2 separate regions of the Homo sapiens genome follow, and region 1 is linked to region 2. Evidence: fine-mapped expression QTL. A gene starts in region 2. The other region holds a variant in brackets. All regions are shown on one strand. Distances are between the middles of the regions. Region 1 overlaps MARK4 (microtubule affinity regulating kinase 4). Region 2 holds the start of CKM (creatine kinase, M-type).

Region 1 (10,266 bases), 26 kb after region 2:
TAGAGACCACACTTTCCAGCCTCCCTTGCAACCAGGTGTGACCTTGTCTGTAAATTCTGGGACATGAGCAGAAGTGAGATGTGCCATCCACATCAGTTCCTTCAAAGAACCTGCATGTGCCAGGCTCTCCTGTCCCACATCTCCCAGGAGCTGGACTTAGCAGTGGCACAGGCCAGCCTCAACTGTGAAGATGACAAGGGCTCCAGGGAATCGGGATGCAATAACCTGGGGACCTGAATGACCGCATAGATCACAGTGGCCTTACCAGCCTGGCTTGGCCACATGGTTTGAATGTTTGAATGAGAAATTTCTTTTTCCTTTTCTTTTTTTTTTTTTTTTTGAGACGGAGTTTTGCTCTTGTTACCCAGGCTGGAGTGCAATGGAACGATCTCGGCTCACCACAACCTCCGCCTCCTGGGTTGAAGCGATTCTCCTGCCATAGCCTCCTGAGTAGTTGGGATTACAGGCACGCGCCACCACGCCTGGCCCCAGCTAATTTTTGTATTTTTAGTAGAGACACGGTTTCACCGTGTCAGCCAGGATGGTCTCGATCTCCTGACCTTGTGATCTGCCCGCCTCGACCTCCCAAAGTGCTGGGATTACAGGTGTGAGCCACTGCGCCCGGCTTTTTTTTTTTTTTTTTTTTTTGAGACAGAGTTTCGCTCTTGTCGCCCAGGCTGGAAGGCAATGACACAATCTTGGCCCACTGCAACCTCTGCTTCCCGGGTTCAAGCAATTCTCCTGCCTCAGCTTCCCAAGTAGCTGGGAGAACAGGCACCACGGCCAGCTAATTTTTGTATTTTTAGTAGAGACGGAGTCTCACCATGTTGGGCAGGCAGGTCTTAAACTCCCGGCCTCAGGTGATCCACCTGCCTTGGCCTCCCAAAGTGCTGGGATTACAGGCGAGAGCCACAGTGCCCGGCCACTTCTTAGTTTTTTTGAGACAGGGTCTTGCAATGCAGTAGTGCAATCACAGCTCACTGCAGCCTCGACCTCCTGGGCTCAAGTGATCCTCCTGCCTTGGCCTCCTGAGTTGTTGGAATTACAGGCATAAGCCACTGTGCTCGGCCTCTGGGGGCTTTTTGATTGTCACATGTCTTAGGATGGGAGCACTGCTGGCACTGACTAGGTTGGGGATGGGGTAGGTCAGGAATGAAAAACATTCTCCAATGTGCAAGAGGGCCCTGCACAACAAAGAAACGTCCCGCCTGAAGTACGAGAGTGCTGCTCTACATGAGCATCCCAGGACTAGCCTCCCTTGTTCCGGTGGGGCCGCCCCTCAGCTTGGGTGAGCACGACTCAGCTCTGCCAATGATAGCATTCTACTTCCCGGCCACTGTGCTTGGGTCAAGGGTGACCACATGACCAGGTCTGACCAACCAGAGTACTTCTCCTCTCTGGCTGCAGGCATTGGTTTAGGAATGAGCATGTGACCAAGTCCCAACCAATGAGAGTCAGCCCTGGCAGTTTGTTGCAGCTGCTGGGAAGGCTCCGGTTTCCACTTGGGTCTCTAAACCGGGAACTCAGACAAAACCAGGGCTTGGCAAACTCCAGTGCTGTCTGCTTTTGTAAATAAAGTTTCATTGGAACACTGCCATACCCATTTGTTTTGTGTTGAATATGACTGCTTTTGCACTACAATGGCACAACTGAACAGGCGTGACACAGGGTGCCTGGCCCTCAAAGCCTAAAATCTTCATGATCTGGGTCCGTACAGATGTTTGCCTCCTGCTGGCCCTGAGCTGCCAGCAAACATTGTGCCATGACTGGATGAGAGGCAAAAGGAGGTGGGGGCATTGACCAGAAGAGGAGTTGAGTTGTGGATGGGATGAGGCTTTTTTTTTTTTTTTTTTTTTTTTTTCAGACGGAGTTTCACTCTTGCTACCCAGGCTGGAGTGCGATGGCACAATCCAGCTCACCGCAACCTCTGCCTCCCGGGTTCAAGCGATTCTCCTGCCTCAGCCTCCCGAGTAGTTGGGATTACAGGCATGCGCCACTACGCCCGGCTAATTTTTGTATTTTTAGTAACGACGGGGTTTCTCCATCTTAGGCTGGTCTCAAACTCCCGACCTCAGGTGATCTGCCTCCCTTGGACTCCCAAAGTGCTGGGATTACAGGCTTGGGCCATGGCACCCAGCCGGAGGCTGAAGTTTAAGATGATCAAGGGAAGGTGCTTGGGGTTGGGTGGGAATGAGAGGAGCTGGCAGAGAAGGCTGGGGCCACAGGGCATTTCAGGAAGTTGGCCTTGCAGGATGAGACTGGGGCCCCATCTAATGCCCTGGGGTAAGTGTCGGGAGGTGCTGAGGCAGGAGAGGGGAAGTGGCAGTCAGGGGTAGGCCCAAGCACTCACCTTGTGACCTCAGGTCCCCCGATTCTCTCAGGTTCGTCTGCGACCCTAGGGGAGGGGAGGGGGACAGAGTGTCTAATCTGGACATAGGGAACCCACCTCCCGCAACCCACTGCCTCTGGGACTCCAAGCAGCCCCTGCCTCAACCCCAGTCCCTCCGGGCTGGTGAGGGCCTGGAGTCAGGATTTGATCTCCTTGTCCATCCCCATAACGGGGCTCATTCTGAAATGGTTAGTGCAGGTCACAGGAAAGATACTGAAGAATGTGGAAGATGAAAGGGAGGGGAGTGGGCAGAGACACACCCTTACATAGATAAGTGGCCACAGAGAGAAAGAGAGAGACACACGCACGTGTGCACACACACACACTCCCTCGCTCACATATACATTCATGCTTTGCTCAAACAACACCTCCTTCGTGAGGCCTGCCCTTTTTTCTTTTTTTGAGACAGAGTCTCACTCTGTCATGCAGGAGTGGCGTGATCTCAGCTCGCTGCAGCCTCAACCTCCCAGGCTCAAGCAATCTTCCTGCCTTGGCCCCTGAAGTAGCTGGGACTACAGGCGCGTGCCACATCTGCTTTTTGTTTTTTGTTTTGTTTTGTAGAGATGGGGCTTTGCCACATTGCCCAGGCTGGTCTCAAACTCCTGGACTCAAGTCATCTGTCCAAAGTGCTGGGATTGCTGGCCTGAGCCACCTCATCCAGAGGCCTGCCCATTTAATGCTGCACCCCATCCCTTCCCCACACCCCTTATTCCCCTCCCTGTTCAATTTTTTTTTTTTTTTTTTTTTTTTTTAGAGACAGGTTCTCCCTCTGTTGCCAAGACTGATGATCATAGCTCACAGCAGCCTTGACCTCCTGCGTTCAAGTGATCCTCCTGCCTCGGCCTCCCAATTCCATGGGAATACAGGTGCAGTCACCACGCCCGGCCAATTTATTTACTTTTTTGTAGAGATAGGATCTTGCTACGTTGTCCAGGCTGGTCTTGAACTTCTGGGCTCAAGTGATCCCCTCGCCTCAGCCTCCCAAAGTGCTGTGATTACAAGCATAAGCCACCAAATTTGGCTCCTACTCTATTTTTCTTCTTAGTTACTTCGCACTACCTAGCAGTCTATATAGTAAGTATATTTTACTTATTTCTTTGTTTTTTGTCTAGATCCCTTAGTAGAATGTTGGGTCTGCCAGGGCAGGAGTTTTGTACATTTTGCTCACCCTCTACTACAGGGCCTAGGACAGTGCCAGGCACACAGTAGGGGCTCAATGAATAATAGCAATTAATAACTAATACACATGTAAAGCACTTTCCAAGGCAATGTTCTACGCTCAGTCCATACGTCACTTCATTTAGTCCTCACAATAACCCTAGGAGACAGGTATTGTTATTACTATACCCATTTTACAGAAGAGGAAAACCAGGCCCAGAGACCTTGAGTGACTTGCTCAAGGTCACTTGGCAGAGCTGCCATTTGAACCCCCGAGTCTGGCTCCATAGGCTGTGCTTCTGTGAGTAAATGAACAACCAGACCCCACGCACAGACCCTCACATCCACAGAGCCCCCTCCCAATGCCCGCACACACAGGTCAGACATGCAGGCAGGGAGGCAGAGCCAGCGAGAACAGGGCATGGACGGGACTTACTGATCTTGGATCCCTGGGGCAGAGAGGCGCCCGAAACACAGCGGTTAGAGTTCTGCCGTTTAGAGGGATCGAGGGTAACCCTGCAGTGTGAGGAGGGAGGTGAGGGGTGACAGGGGAGGAGGAAAGGAGGAGGAGGAGGAGGAAACGAGGAGGAGGAGGAGGAGGAAGAGGAAATGTTGGGGTACAGGAGACAGAGCAGAGTGGAAGACAGGTTAGGTCCCATCGGCCCCCCGCCCCGCCCTGCCCCTGCCATCCCCGCGGAGCTCACCTTCGGGTCAGTTTGGAGGTCAGCTTGGTGAAGAGGTTGGTGGTGGGGCGGGGCCGCCCGGCGGGCAGGGGTGCAGCCTCATGGGCCAGTGTGGGAGAGGCAGGGGGCCCATTCTGCACACCCCCACCACCCCCACCCCCTGCCCGCCGGTCCCGGACCTGGCCACCATGGAAGGTGCTGCGGATGGTGGAACCACGTGCCAGGCGGCTCCGCTCCCCTGATGGGGGTGCCAGGCTGTGACTGGAGGGGGAGGCAGGGGGCACCCGTGGGGTGCCTGAGCTGTGGGCAGAGACAGACAAGTCAGGGTGGGGGACTGAGGCAGGCCAGGGCCCCAGTCCCTTTGATTCTTCACATTCCTGTCCTGAGACCAGGGACTGCAACCAGCCTGGAACTCAGAGACAGGGCTGCAACGTACAGTTGTGCAGGCTGTGCACTATACAATCCTAGCATTATTTTACTGACTCTCTCCTCTCCTATTACCCCTCCTTCAAACTGTCCCTTCTTCAAACTCTACCCGCTCCAAATCATCTCCTATCACAACTCTCCTCTCTCTAAACGCAGCAACTGAATAGATGCACAGACATTTTTGGGTGACTTCCTTGCTATTTGCCGAAACCTCAGGAACCAAATCAACTTGGCAAACACTTTGCTATCTGAACTCTCACCATCTAAAATCAGGAAAGGGATAGATGTAAAGGTCAAGGATACCTGTATTCACTATGGTAATCTGGGCAGTGGGGGTTCCACTGTCCCAGGACCCTCCTCCAGCCCCTCGGACCCTCCTAGTCGACAGCAGGGGCCAGACCTCCATCTCCTGAGTTCAATTCTCCTGCCTCACCCTCCTGAGTAGCTGGGATTACAAGCGTGTGCCACCATGCCTGGCTAATTTTTTTTTTTTTTTTTTTTGAGACAGAGTCTCACTCTGTCACCTAGGCTGAAGGGCCATGGGGCAATCTTGGCTACTGCAACCTCTGCCTCCTGGGTTCAAGTGATTCTCCTGCCTCAGCCTCCTGAGTAGCTGGGACTATAGGCATGCAGCACCACGCCTGGGTAGTTTATGTATTTTCAGGAGAGATGGGGTTTCACCATGTTGGCCAGGCTGGTCTCAAACTCCTCACCTCAGGTGATCCACTGGCCTTGGCCTCCCAAAGTGCTGGGATTCCAGGTGTGAGCCACTGCGCCCAGCCCAGACCTCCAATTTCTATCCTCCCAGGGACTCCAGGCCCAGCCTGGATCT[C/G]AGAGAAGAATCCTGATTGTGGCAGAGGCTGTTACTTCTCCCTTAGAATCCATCCTCCCTGTTTCGTTCTTGGTAACCAAACCCCTAAGAGTATGAGCACTGCACATGGCCACCCAGCCAGAGACTACATTTCCCAGACTCTCTTGCAGCTAGAGATGGTTATGTGACCATGCTCCGGCCAATGGGATATAAGCAGAAGTGCTCTGTACCATCTCTGGGTGACGCCTTTACAAAGAGTTGTTGCTTGTCCCCTACTCTTTCCCCACTTCTTCCTGATTGGGAAATGATGGCTGCTGGTGCAGCGGCCTCAGTCCCAGAGCTGGAAACTCATTTTGGGGCTGGAAGAACTTACCTGGGTCCTTGGAGGACCCTCCGGACTAAACGTCCTTTTTATTTAAATTACTCTACCCTGGGATCTCTTTGTTTTTATTACAGCAGCTAGCTGAGTCTATACTTTTTATTTTTTGTTGTTTTTAAATTTTTTTTTAATTTTTGATTTTTTTTGTCTGAGTCTGTAATTTAACTGTTCCACTATCTCTTGAGCAGAACTGGAAGGCCATGTACTACAGTGATTACAAATAAGATTCTGGAGTCAAGTCTGGAATCTGCTTCTTGACTTACCAGCTGTGTGGCCTTGGATAAGTTACTTAACCTCTCTGTGCCTTATGTCCTCAGCTGTAAAATGGAGATATTAGGATCTACCTCACAGAGTTGTTAGGGGCACTGAGCCAGGCAATAGACATAGAAGCCTGGCATGTAGCTGCTGCTTCATGAATGTTCACTATTGTTATTTGATAACCACCAAAAAAAAGCACTCTCAAGTCACTGAATGAAGGCCTCCTAAGCATCAGACCCAGTGCCAGGTACAGGACACACCTGATCTCTACTGCATCTCTATAATGGGGCCTGGAAGTGGACAGCATCAGCCCTTTTTTTTATGAGACGGATTCTTGCTGTGTGGCTCAGGCTGGAGTACAGTGGCGCAATCCCAGCTCACTGCAACCTCTGCCTCCCAGGTTCAAGCGATTCTCCTGCCTCATTCAGCCTTCTGAGTAGCTGGGATTACATGCACATGACATCGTTCCTGGCTAATTTTTGTATTTTTAGTAGAGACAGGGTTTCATCATGTTGGCCAGGCTGGTCTCGAACTCCTGACCTCAGGTGATCTGCCCACCTCGGCCTCACAAAGTGCTGGGATTACAGGTGTGAGCCACCATGCCCGGCCAGCATCAAGCCCATTTTACCGAGGAGGAAACAGAGGCACAGGGATTTACCCGGTCATTCTGCTAGCAGTGTGAGCACAGAGGTAAGATTCGAACTCAGAACTGAGTATTCACAGAATCGTGACTTTTTTTTTTTGAGATGGAGTCTCGCTCTGTTGCCCAGGCTGGAGTGCAGTGGCGTGATCTCGGCTCACTGCAAACTCCGCCTTCCAGGTTCACGCCATTGTCCTGCCTCTGCCTCCAGAGTAGCTGGGACTACAGGTGCCCACCACTGCACCCAGCTAATTTTTTTTTTTTTTTGGTATTTTTAGTAGAGACGGGGTGTCACCATGTTAGCCAGGATGGTCTCGATCTCCTGACTTCTTGATCCACCTGCCTCAGCCTCCCAAAGTGCTGGTATTACAGGCATGAGCCACTGTGCCTGGACAGATTTGTGACTGTTAACTACCCCATTCCTCTGCCCACACCCAGTGGGAACACCTGCACCCACTAATCAGGTGCATCCCAGAGTGTGCCCTGGTGTTGGCCATCAACCTGCCCTACAGCCCTGGTGGGGGGCAGTGTCCTCATCCTGGAGCTGGCCCCATTCTAGCTGGCCTTGACCTGTGATGTGAACCAATCCCTTCCCTCTCTCTGCTCCAGCCAGTCTGAACTGGTTTCCCTCCCTTGCCAGCTGGAAGAGACCTCACAGACTCAGGCCAACAAGCCGGAAAACCAGCCAACCAGATGACGCTGAAGCTGTGACATTCTGGGGCTTCTCTCGAGTTCTAAAAATGGATCATTCAAAAAATCAATTCAGGTTCCCAAGGCTTGTAGGCGGAGAACAGGGCCAACTGCTTTCCTGGTGCTTAAGACTAATTAATTAAGTGGGGAGGATTTTCAGGGGGGTACATGGGTCGATTCTGCCAAGGGCAGGGCAGATACACTCACTCTCTGGTCCCCATGGCACCAGCCTCCAATGCCTATCATCTCAGATCAAGGGAGGTCCTGTTCACCTACCCCCTACTTCCCACCCCTCACCCTGTTGCTGCCCCCTCCGTACCTGTTTTCTTTCCCATTTGGCAACAGTGACGGGCGCTCAGCCCCCGGGCGTTCTGTGCAAACGTAGGTGTTTCTGCGGGTCATCATGCTAGGAGGGAGGTTGTTCTGCAGGAGACACAGCCAGGAAGGGAGTGAGGGGGTGAAGACATGCCCCTGAGCTTCTCCCTCTTCCCTTCTCTGCCCTCCCCATCGATGAATAAGTCAGGGGCTCATGTGGGAACCCAGGGTGAGTAGGAGATGGTGAAAGGTCCCAAAGATGTGAAAGGTTCATGAGTAATCCCAGCCACCGAGGCTGAGTCAGGGGAGACCCCTGGAGACCGGAGAAGAGGGGGGCACTGAGGGAAAACGAGGCAGGGAAGGTTTCCAGGGGGCATCCTTGTCCACCGCTCTTCTCCCAGCAATGCCCACCTTCTTGAGGTCCAGCCCAGCCACACCAAACGTTTGCTAATGTACTTATTCATGCCACATTCTGTCACTGTGACTAGCCTGTGCACTGGCTGTCTCACCTGTTAGAACATTACTCCTACCTTTTCCCCTGACTCACTCCTACATATCTTTCAGGTGTCAGTTCATAATCTACCACCACCCCCGGCCCCAGGCTGAGTCACGTGCCTCCTCCTTTGGGTTCCCACAGGCCCCTGGGCTCCCCACTGCAGCTTCAATCACTGTGCTGTCAATGTCTGTTCTCATATATGTCCCCATCCCATACTGGGCTGTGAGCTCTGGGAACACAGGGAATATCAGGATTATGCTGCCTCATAAACATGTTAGGAAGAGAGCCCTCTTTTTCTATTCTCTGGAAGTTTGTCTAAGGTTAGTGTTATTTCTTCTTTAAGTGTTTGGAAGAATTCCACTGGTGGGAGTCATCCAAGCCAAAAATTTTCTTTATAGGGAAGGTTTTCAGTTACGAATTCAATTTCTTTAACAAGAATATAAGACTGTTCAGGTTTTCTATTTCTTCTTGTGTCAGTTTTGATACAGTGTGTTTTTAAAGTAATGTGTCCATTTCATCTAAGCTGTTAAATTTATTGGCACAAAGTAGTTCCTAATATCATCTTACTATCTTTTAATGTTAGAACAAAGTTCCCCTTTTCATTGTGGATACTGGTGATTCATGTTTGCTGTCTTTTTTCCTTAATTGATTTTTACCAGGGGTCCATTGGATTTTATTTATTTATTTATTTTTTTGGACAGAGTTTCACTCATTTTGCCCAGGCTGGAGTGCAATGGCATGATCTCAGCTCACTGCAACCTCCACCTCCCAGATTCAAGTGAACCTGCCTTAGTCTCCCGAGTAGCTGGGATTACAGGTGTGGACCACCACATCCAGCTAATTTTTTGTATTTTTGGTAGAGATGGGGTTTCACCATGCTGGCCAGGCTGGTCTCAAACTCCTGACCTCAAGTGATCCACCCGCCTCAGCCTCCCAAAGTGCTGGGATTACAGGCATGAGCCACCACGCCCAGACTGATTTTATTAATCTTTTCAAAAAACCAACTTTAGGTTTTGTTGCTTTATTGTACCTCTTCTTTCTCCTTCACTGATTTATTCTCTTTAATGCCTCCTCCCTTCTACTTTTTTTGAGATGGGGTCTTGTTCTGATGCCTAGGCTGGAGTGCAGTGGGGTGATCATGGCTCACTGCAGCCTCGACCTCCTGGCCTCAAGTGGATCCTTTCACCTCAGCCTCCCAAGTAGCTAGAACCTCAGGCATGTGCCACAACACTTAGCTAATTTTTATTTTTGGCAGAGACAGGGTCTATGTTGTCCAGGCTGGTCTTGAACTCCTGGGCTCAAGCAATCCTCCTGCCTCAGCCTCCCGAACTGCTGGGATTACAGGCATGAGCCACCAATTCCGGTCCCTTCTACTTTCTTTGAGGTTTATTTGCTTTTCCTTTTTTACCTTCTTAAGGTGTGGGTTTCGTTTAGCAATAACAATAGCTCTCATTCACTGAGTGCTTACTGTGCCAGTATGTGAAGTACTTCACGTATGAGATCTTACAAGATCCTCACAATGACCCAGGTTCTTTAATGAGCCCATTTCACATAGTGAGATATCAAAGATCAGAGAGGTGAAGTTACTTGCCCAAGGTCACACGGCTCATTAATGTAATTCAAACTCTACGTGGCTTCAGAGTCCCGGCCACTTTCTCAAACTGCCTCCACCCTTTTTCTCTTTTTTAAGAGATAGGATCTCACCATGTTGCCCAGGCTGGTCTCGAACTCCTGGCCTCAAGCAATCCTCCCACCTCAGCCTCCCAAGTAGCTGGGACTACATGTGTGTGCCACCATGTCCAGCTCTGCCTCCACTCTCCTGTTCCTATGTTGAGGATATTTTCGTACTTTGCTGTTCTTGGGAACTCAGATGCAAAAAAGCCAAGTCCTACATTTCCCAGAATCCTTTGCAGCTCAGGTTCTGCATATAAGTTGGGTTCTGCCAATCTTTGCATTCATGAAGATTTGGAAGGTGGAAATGGGGCAGCAGCTGCTCTCCTGCCTGCTTTGACTTCAGCTCA
Region 2 (10,266 bases):
AAGCTCCAGGACTGACAGCCTAGTCCAGTCTTGTTCTGCTACTTCCCTGCTGTGTGACTTTCGATAAGTGTTGCAACCTCTCTGGGCCAGCCTTACTTTCCTGATTTGTAAAAACGGCAGTACCTTCTAGACTCCCAGAAGAAAAGTAAATTAAAAAAAAATTGGCAGTACTCACTTCATAGGACTGTTGGAAAATTAAACTAGTGAATACCCATTAAAGTCCTTGGACCCTGAAGTCAGATGGCTGGGGTGATGGGAGATGGGTTGGGGAAGTGGGTACACTAGAGCCTGATGACCTAGAAAGAGGCTGACAATACAGTCTGACGTCGGGGAGAAGCCTGGAAGTTATTTCCACCAAAGCCTGAATCCATTCTTGGCAGCCTTGTACCTGTTTGATTCCCAGTTCTGCCCCCTTCCAGCTGTGTGACTTTGGGCAAGTCACTTAACCTCTCTGAGCCTTATTGTTGGGGACGTTAAATAAGTCAACATATGTAAAGCACTTAGCACAGTACTTGACATACAGGTGTATTCAATAAAAGTTAACTGTCAGGGCCTGGAGTGGTGGTGCGCGCCTGTAGTCCCAGCTACTCGGGAGGCTGAAGCGGGAGGATTGCTTGAGGCTTGGAATTGGAGGCTGCAGTGCACTCTGATTGTGCCTGTGAATAACTACTGTGCTCCAGCCTGAGCAACATAGCGAGACCCCATCAAGAACCCATGTCTAAACAAACAAACAAACAAACAAAAGCTTCTTTGTGGAGTGGCTGTTTAATGTCCATGTTAACCTCCTTCGAGCACATTCTCCTGTCAATGAAGAGGCTGGAAAGCTAAAGACTAGATTTTCCAGAGGGAAAGTAGGAAAGTAGTTCTGGGGCCCGAGCAGTGTTCCTTCAGCCCTTCCAACGATTTTGTCAGTGCCTAATACATGATAGTACAGTCCTTTTTTTTTTTTTTTTTTTTGAGATGGAGTCTCGCTCTGTCGCCCAGGCTGAAGTGCAGTGGTGCGATCTCGGCTCACTGCAACTCCGCCTCCCGGGTTCACACCATTCTCCTGCCTCAGGCCCCGGAGTAGCTGGGACGACATGCGCCTGCCACCACGCACGGCTAATTTTTTTTTTTTTGTATATTTTTGTAGTAGAGACAGGGTTTCACCGTGTTAGCCAGGATAGTCTCGATCTCCTAACCTCGTGATCCGCCCGCCTCGGCCTCTCAAAGTGCTGGGATTACAGGCGTGAGCCACTGCGCCCAGCCAATAGCAGAGTCCTTTCTATTTAAGCTGGGTAGTGGTTACTCTCGCCTACATCTGCCAGATACAGTTACTATTATTTATTTAGTCAACAAATACTCATTTACCTTGAGGGCACTGGGGAGCCATGGCAAGCTCTGAGGAGGGGAGGTCAGCAGGTAGGGTTTAGGTGGGAATGGCAAAGACTGGGACAGGAGTCCAGGGAGGAAGTTGGGTCAGGAGGGACAGTGGAGGCGGTCTTGAGCTAGAGTGGGCAGTGGAGGGGCAGAGGTCGGATTGACAGTCGGGCTCTGGGGGGTGGGATGAAGATACGTGATGAGGGTTGTAAAGCTCCCCAAGGCCAACTGTTTCTTTAAGACTCAAAGCAGAGGGAGCTCACGGCACAAGGTCCTGCTGGAGCGTTTGATTGGCTCAGCCCAGGTCACTGGCCTGGACCATTGCTGCAAGGGATTCTGGGAAATTGAGTTTCTGGCATCTTTGGCTTCTCCAAAGGAGGAGGGCTTACAGTGGGGAATCCCCGAACATAGAAAAGGCTTCTGGCACTGTGTGGCTAAAAAGAATGTGCAATGGGCCCGGCAGGGTGCCTCACGCCTGTAATCCCAGCACTCTGGGAGGCCGAGGTGGGTGGATCACCTGAGGTAGGAGTCTGAGACTAGCCTGGCCAACATGGCAAAACCCCTTCTCTACTAAAAATATAAAAGTTAGCAGAGCGTGGTGGCCCATGCCTGTAGTCCCAGCTACTCGGGAGGCTGAGGCAGGAGAATCGCTTGAACCTGGGAGGCGGAGGTTGCAGTGAGCTGACATCGCACCATTGCACTCCTGCCTGGTGATAGAGCAAGACTCCATCTCAAAAAAAAAAAAAAAAAAACAAACCCTCCCACAAGGTGTGGCTGGACCGTGCCACCCAAAATGCGTGTGGCATGGATCCAGCCTCTTCCCTGCTTATGACCCTCAGTGCCTCCTGTCAGTCTCACAGTGGGATGATGATGATGATTTTTTCCATTTAATATTTTAAAAAATTATTCTAAAAAATTTTTTGTAGGTATTTAGTAGGTGTGTATATTTATGGGGTATATGAAACGTTTTGTTCTTTTTTTTTTTTTTTTTTTTGAGATGGAGTTTCACTCTTTTTGCCCAGGCTAGAGTGCAATGGCGCGATTTCGGCCCGCAGAAACCTCTGCCTCCCGAGTTCAAGCGATTCTCCTGCCTCAGCCTACCGAGTAGCTGGGATTACAGGCATGTGCCACCACCCCGGCTAATTTTGTATTTTTAGTAGAGACAGGGTTTCTCCACGTTGATCAGGCTGGTCTTGAACTCCCGACCTCAGGTGATCTGCCCACCTCGGCCTCCCAAAGTGCTGGGATTACAGGCGTGAGCCACTGCACCCGGCCATGAAATGTTTTGATACAGGCATGCAACTTGTAATAATCACATCGTGGAGAATGGGGTATCCATCTTCTCAAGCATTTATCCTTTATATTACAAACAATCCAATTATACTCCTTTAGTTATTTTAATTAATTTTTGTGTGTGTGAGACAGGGTCTCACTCTCTTGCCCAGGATGGAGTGCAGCAGTGGCTCGATCACAGCTCACTGCAGCCTCGACTGCCTGGGTTCAAGCAATCCTCCTGCCTCAGCCTCCTTGTTTTGATTTTTAGATCCCACAAATAACTTGTGATGTTTGTCTTTCTATACCTGGTTCATTTAACATTTTCTTTTTCTTTTCTTTTCTTTTTTTTTTTTTTTGTGAGACTGAGTCTTGCTCTGTCACTCAGGCTGGAGGGCAATGGTGCCATCTCAGCTCACTGCAACCTCCACCTCCTAGGTTCAAGCAATTCTTATGCCTCAGCCTCCTGGCTAGCTGGGATTACAGGCGTGTGTCACCATGCCAGGCTAATTTTTGTACTTTTAGTAGAGATGGGGTTTCACCATGTTGGCCAGGCTGGTCTTGAACTCCTGGCCTCAAGTGATCCACCCGCCTCCGCCTCTGCCTCCCAAAGTGCTGGGATTACGGGCCTGAGCCACTGTGCCCGGCCCATCTAACATTTTCACTGTCAATCACAATGGGATTAAAACTCCTCCCACAGCCCCTAGGGCACCATGGGTCTGCTCCTGTCTCCCCTCCAACCTCATCTTCTTCCTCCCACTCTCTCCTTGGCCCCATCTGCTCCAGTCCCCTGGCCTCCTTCCTGTCTGTCCTCAGATGTGCCCAGCCATTCTCACCTCAGCGCCTTTGCACCTGCTGTTCCCCCCAGAGCCGCACATGGCTGGCTCCCTGTTCTCCTTCAGGTCTCTGCTCAGATGTCATCTTCCCAAAGAGGCCTGCCTCGACCTCCCCTGCTGCTGTGCCGTCCCCTCATCTGTGACCCTCTTGCACTATCACCTCCAGGACGGCGGGGGTTTTGTGTTTTGTTGTAGCCTCAGGAAGTGCCTGATAGATCCCTGTTTCGAGACCAGTTCCATTTGGTTTTCTGGGCCTCAGTTTCCGTAACCGTGAAGGAGACCCTCGGCAATCTGAGCTTGCTGGGAAAGGGCTGGGCCCCATGTAAATATTTCTAAAGCACCCCTCTCCCCTCCCCCCTCAGATCAGGAGTCTGAGGGAGAGGCACAGAGGCTCCCTTTCTCTAAGCCAGTCCTCACCTGCCTAAGAAGATGTGAAGGAGACCCAGGAGACCCTGGGATAGGGAGGAACTCAGAGGGAAGGGACATTCTTTTCTTCGTCGCAATCCTGGGAGCTCCCTGGAGGAGGAGACCCGATCAGCCTGCAATCCTGGCGCGTCCCAGGAGGAGAAAGCGGCTTCCTCTATACTGTACTCTCCTCCACAGAACCCCCCTCTCAGCCCTGGAAGTCCTTGCTCACAGCCGAGGCGCCGAGAGCGCTTGCTCTGCCCAGATCTGCGCGAGTCTGGCGCCCGCGCTCTGAACGGCGTCGCTGCCCAGCCCCCTTCCCCGGGAGGTGGGAGCGGCCACCCAGGGCCCCGTGGCTGCCCTTGTAAGGAGGCGAGGCCCGAGGACACCCGAGACGCCCGGTTATAATTAACCAGGACACGTGGCGAACCCCCCTCCAACACCTGCCCCCGAACCCCCCCATACCCAGCGCCTCGGGTCTCGGCCTTTGCGGCAGAGGAGACAGCAAAGCGCCCTCTAAAAATAACTCCTTTCCCGGCGACCGAGACCCTCCCTGTCCCCCGCACAGCGGAAATCTCCCAGTGGCACCGAGGGGGCGAGGGTTAAGTGGGGGGGAGGGTGACCACCGCCTCCCACCCTTGCCCTGAGTTTGAATCTCTCCAACTCAGCCAGCCTCAGTTTCCCCTCCACTCAGTCCCTAGGAGGAAGGGGCGCCCAAGCGCGGGTTTCTGGGGTTAGACTGCCCTCCATTGCAATTGGTCCTTCTCCCGGCCTCTGCTTCCTCCAGCTCACAGGGTATCTGCTCCTCCTGGAGCCACACCTTGGTTCCCCGAGGTGCCGCTGGGACTCGGGTAGGGGTGAGGGCCCAGGGGGCACAGGGGGAGCCGAGGGCCACAGGAAGGGCTGGTGGCTGAAGGAGACTCAGGGGCCAGGGGACGGTGGCTTCTACGTGCTTGGGACGTTCCCAGCCACCGTCCCATGTTCCCGGCGGGGGGCCAGCTGTCCCCACCGCCAGCCCAACTCAGCACTTGGTCAGGGTATCAGCTTGGTGGGGGGGCGTGAGCCCAGCCCCTGGGGCGGCTCAGCCCATACAAGGCCATGGGGCTGGGCGCAAAGCATGCCTGGGTTCAGGGTGGGTATGGTGCGGGAGCAGGGAGGTGAGAGGCTCAGCTGCCCTCCAGAACTCCTCCCTGGGGACAACCCCTCCCAGCCAATAGCACAGCCTAGGTCCCCCTATATAAGGCCACGGCTGCTGGCCCTTCCTTTGGGTCAGTGTCACCTCCAGGATACAGACAGCCCCCCTTCAGCCCAGCCCAGCCAGGTACTGCACGGGGCGGGAATCTGGGTGGGGGCCAGAGTAGGGGATTTCTGTGGGTGCTAGAGGCTTGGCTTGGGAAAGGGTCTGTGTGTCACCCCTTGCTCCACCAACATCCTCCTATACAAAGGCAGGTCGGTGCGTGGGAAGGTTGACCCTTGTGTGTCTGGGAGGCCCCTCCATCTGTGAGGCTGCCTGAACCCCCCACTGGGACCTGTGATTTCTGCGGCACAAGTCTTGGGTTATGGGGAGGGATCCGAGATGAAAGGGGTCCTGACAGCTGCCAACTGTCACCCCCTGCAAGGGGCTGTTGAGCCAGGCCTGTGTTCATTACAGTTTGTCGCCAACACTGGCGCCACAAGCCGTGGGAGGTGTGTCTGTCGCCTAGCAGAGTCTGCAAGAGCAGGTGTCGCAGGCTTTCTTTGCGTTTGCTACTGTGTGGGTCCCTGTGACCTTGTTTCTGACTTAGTAGCGGACACATGAGTGTCCTGGGCATGTCCTTGAGTTTGGAAGTGTGACTGTGTGACTTAGTTTACAGTGTGATCTGGGGAGTCTGCGGTGGTGGGGGTGTGTGGCTCTGGGGCTTTCTGCTTATGTCTCTTGTGGGGGGGGTCACCACCCTGCCTCAGTGCCCTCTCCTGGGGTGTCCCTGGCAGGGATTAGGGGGGCATCCTCTGAAGGGAGGGGGTCTGGGCTGCCATCCCAGGATGTCCTTGAGCCCCGAGGCCTGGACCCGTGTCCTCCCAGCCACCCTGGCCCACCTGTCTTGGGCCTGCTGACTTGGTGCAAGCCGAGCCCCGGAATGTGGGGGTGGGGCGGGGCAGCAGCTGGGGGTGGGATGGCAGGCAGTTGCCAGATTCTAAAAATAACCACCCTGGACAGCAGCACCCAAGGTCTTTGGCGGGTCCCTGTTCCTCTTCCCTGGCTTCAGCTCACCGTGGTCCCAATCTCCCTCCCACAATCCCACCTGCTTCCCATCCCCGTCTCCCACCGCTGCTGGAGGCCCCTTCTCCTTTCTGGGTCCCTTCTCCTTTCTGGGTCCAGTGAATAAAATAATAATAACAGTAGGACCTGGCGCAGTGGCTCACACGCATAATCCCAGCATCTTGGGAGGCCGATGCTGGAGGATCACTTGAGGCCAGGAGTCCCAGACCAGCCTGGGCAACATAGTGAGACCCCATCTCTGCAAAAAAGTAGTAATAACAAATAACAATAATAGCAGCCACCAGGGTTCCAGGCTCCAACTCCATGCCAGGGCCTGTGCTCAGCCAACCTCATGGCCAAGCTCAGAGGATCCTGGCAATCCTACGGGGCAGGCTCAGTTCACAGGAGACAGAGGTCCAGAGAGGCCTAGTGACTGGCCTGGGGTCACACAGCAGGGAAATGGCATAGGTGGGATTTGAACCTGCCTCTGACGACCCAGAGGCTGAGCTTTTCTTCCCTTCTGAGCCCTGTGGGAGAACTGTCAGCAGGCAGAGGTGGGGGCAGCTACCCAGCCCTCCCCCGACCCAGCCCTTTGTCTTTGGATTGATAATCCAAGAACCTGCTCACATACTCCCAGCAGCACCCTCACCTCCACCTTCTCACCAGCTCCTCGCACGAACCTTTAAAATAACAACAACAGGCCAGGTGCCGTGACTCATGCCTGTAATCTCAGCACTTTGGGAGGCAGAGGTGGGCGGATCACTTGAGTTCAGGAGTTCAAGACCAGCCTGGCCAACATGGCGAAACCCCAACTCTACTAAAAATACCAAAAAAAAAAATAGCCAGGTGTGGCACACGCCTGTAGTTGCAGCTACTCAGGAGGCTGAAGCAGGATAGTTGCTTGAACCTGGGAGGTGGAGGTTGCAGTGAACTGAGATTATGCCACTGCACTCTAGCCTGGGCGACAGAGCGAGACTCTGTCTCAAACATAATAATAATAATAATAATAATAGCAGCTAAGTGAAATAATGCTTATTGTGTACCAGGCACTGTTCCGAGAGCTACACCTGTATTCACACATTTAATCTTTTCAACACTCCCATGCGGCAAGTGCTGTTAGGATCCTCATTTTCTAGATGAGTAAATTGAGGCACAGAGGTTAAGCAACTTGCCCCTGGCCACACAGCTGGTTGTAGGTAGCAGAGCTGGGAATCAAACCCTGGGCTGATTCCAGAACCTACACTCTTACCCACACAAAATATTTTTCCAGCCTCCGGGAGGGGCCCGTTTTCCACCTGGGGAAATTGAGTTTCCAGCAAGAATGACTAGTCCAGGCTCACCCAACTGGGATACGGCAGAGCCAGGCCCTTGATCTAAGACTCCGGATGCCTTCCTGCTGAGACACAGGGGCTCAGAGAGAGGATTTCTCTTGCTCCAAGTTACACAGCCTGCCTGACCCCAACGCCTTGCCCAGTTCTCTTGCTGCTGTCTGCAAGATGCGAGCTAGGCGGGGCACAGTGGCTCACGCCTGTAATCCCAGCACTTTGGGAGGCCGAGGCGGGTGGATCACTTGAGGCCAGGAGTTCGAGACCAGCCTGGCCAACCAGTAGAGATGGTGAAACCCCATCTCTAATAAAAATACAAAAAAATTAGCCAGGCATGGTGGTGTGCGCCTGTAATCCCAGCTACTCAGGAGGCTGAGACAGGAGAATCTCTTGAACCTGGGAGGTGGAGGCTGCAGTGAGCCGAGGTCTCGCCACTGCACTCCAACCTGGGTAACAGAGTGAGACTCCATCTCAAAAAAAAGAAGAAAAGGCCGGGTGCAGTGGCTCACGCCTGTAATCCCAGCACTTTGGGAGGCCGAGGCGGGCGGATCACAAGGTCAGGAGATCAAGACTATCCTGGCTAACATGGTGAAACCCCGTCTCTACTAAAAATACAAAAAATGAGCCGGCGTGGTGGCGGGCGCCTGTATTCCCAGCTACTCGGGAGGCTGAGGCGGGAGAATGGTGTGAACCCAGGAGGTGGAGCTTGCAGTGAGCCGAGATCGTGCCACTGCACTCCAGCCTGGGTGACAGAGCGAGACTCCGTCTCAAAAAAAAAAAAAGAAGAAGAAGAAGAAAAAAGATGCCAGCTAATCTTCAATCTTCCCCTCCTGCCCTGCCCATCAGGTCTCCTACACCGCCACCATGCCATTCGGTAACACCCACAACAAGTTCAAGCTGAATTACAAGCCTGAGGAGGAGTACCCCGACCTCAGCAAACATAACAACCACATGGCCAAGGTACTGACCCTTGAACTCTACAAGAAGCTGCGGGACAAGGAGACTCCATCTGGCTTCACTGTAGACGATGTCATCCAGACAGGAGTGGACAACCCAGGTGAGCCTCCCCAGTGGAGCACTGAAGGGGCTACATGGGGGCTCTGGAGGCTGCCGGCCATGCCCCAATCCCACCACCCTTGAAGGGGGGGGGGCCTCAGTTTTCTCATCTGTAAAATGGGGCTGTTGTGGGAATCAATGCATTAATATACATAAAGGCTTGGGACAGTGCGAGGTACTCAGCAAACCACGCAATAAACATGCACGAGAATAATGTGAGATCCCCAAGGAGGTCGGTTCACCTCCTGAACCTCAGTCTCCTCATCTGAAAAATGGGCGCCCACGTTGTGAAAACACAAGTCAATGGCTGTGCAGTGCTTAGAGTGGCACCTGGCACCAAGTGAGTGCTCAAGCTCTGACAGGGGGGCCAGGTGCAGTGGCTCATGCCTGTAATCCCAGCACTTTGGGAGGCCCAGGTGGGAGGATCACTTGAGGCCAGGAGTTTGAGACCAGCCTGAGCAACATAGCAAGACCCTGTCTCTACAAAAAATACAAAAAAATTAGCCAAGTGTGGTGATGAGGGCTTGTGGTCCAAGCTACTCAGGAGGCTGCGGTGGGAGGATCGCTTGAGCCTGGGAGGTGCAGGTTGCAGTAAGCCGAGATCGCGCCACTGTACTCCAGCCACAGAGTGAGACCCTGTCTCAAAAAAAAAAAAAAAGAATCTGACAGGGGATGTTATTAATGTTATGGTTGTTTCTCAAAGGACATTGCAAGGCGAAGAGAGCTGGGAGTGGAGGGGAGGCTCTAGTGCCCCTCACATCCAGCTCACTGTGTGATGCCGGGGAGAAGCCCCTCTCTCCTGGCCCCTGTTTTTCCACTGGGAAACAAGAGGGTCTTTCAAGTCTCTTACCCTCCTGACCCTCTGTGGTACGGTGGTAGCCTGAGATCCTAACATTTCAGGCTAAGATGTCATGACTTTGGGTGCTAATGTTTCCGAGGTGCTGATGCTTTTAGCACCATGTACCCTCTGAAGCTCCCCTTTCTCCTTTGACCCCGCCCCCAGCACTCTTTCTTCTCTCCCACCTTGACCCCTCCCAGCCACCTTGACCTCTCCCAGCCTTCCCTCCCAGTTCCCACCAGTCCTCAGTGTTCTCTCTTTTTTTTTTTTTCCTTTGGAGACAGAGTCTTGCTCTGTCACCCAGGCTGGAGTGCAGTGGTGTGATCTTGGCTCACTGCAACCTCCACTCCCTTGGTTCAAGCAATTCTCATGCCTCAGCCTCCTGAGTAGCTGGGATTACAGGTGTGTGCCCCACACCCAGCTAATTTTTGTATTTTTAGCAGAGATGGGGTTTCACCCTGTTGGCCAGGCTGGTCTCACACTCCTGACCTCAAGAGATTCACCCGCCTCACCCTCCCAAAGTGCTGGGATTGCAGGCATGAGCCACTGTGCCCAACCCTTATGATTCTCAATTCCCACCCAGAGGTATTGAATGTACCCGCCCCCATCCCGACACACATGTCCACACAGGCTCCACTGAGCCCACAAGCCCACGCCCTGTTTGCTGGGGACAAGCAGCTCTGACCTCACCCCCACCCCTCCAGGTCACCCCTTCATCATGACCGTGGGCTGCGTGGCTGGTGATGAGGAGTCCTACGAAGTTTTCAAGGAACTCTTTGACCCCATCATCTCGGATCGCCACGGGGGCTACAAACCCACTGACAAGCACAAGACTGACCTCAACCATGAAAACCTCAAGGTCGGTGTCTGCGCAGGAGGGGAGGGCCGAGGGGTGAGGAGGAGAGAGATCACAGGAGAAATGGGGGGAGACAGAGA

What was found.
Region 1: its variant is fine-mapped to the expression of CKM in whole blood (TOPMed, PIP above 0.99).

What each region holds. Positions count from the first base shown.
Region 1 is chr19:45,291,940-45,302,205 of GRCh38, reverse strand. MARK4 (microtubule affinity regulating kinase 4) reads right to left here. Exons shown (of 17, transcript NM_001199867.2): 14 at 7,754-7,857; 15 at 4,252-4,530; 16 at 2,351-2,395. Among named protein-coding and RNA genes, the nearest start is that of CKM, 26 kb to the left of the region's middle. The variant C/G (reference allele first, on the strand shown) is at 5,489.
Region 2 is chr19:45,317,748-45,328,013 of GRCh38, reverse strand. It overlaps CKM (creatine kinase, M-type), which reads left to right and starts at 5,139. Exons shown (of 8, transcript NM_001824.5): 1 at 5,139-5,193; 2 at 8,283-8,493; 3 at 10,035-10,189. The coding sequence starts at 8,301. RefSeq lists an enhancer at 4,173-4,415.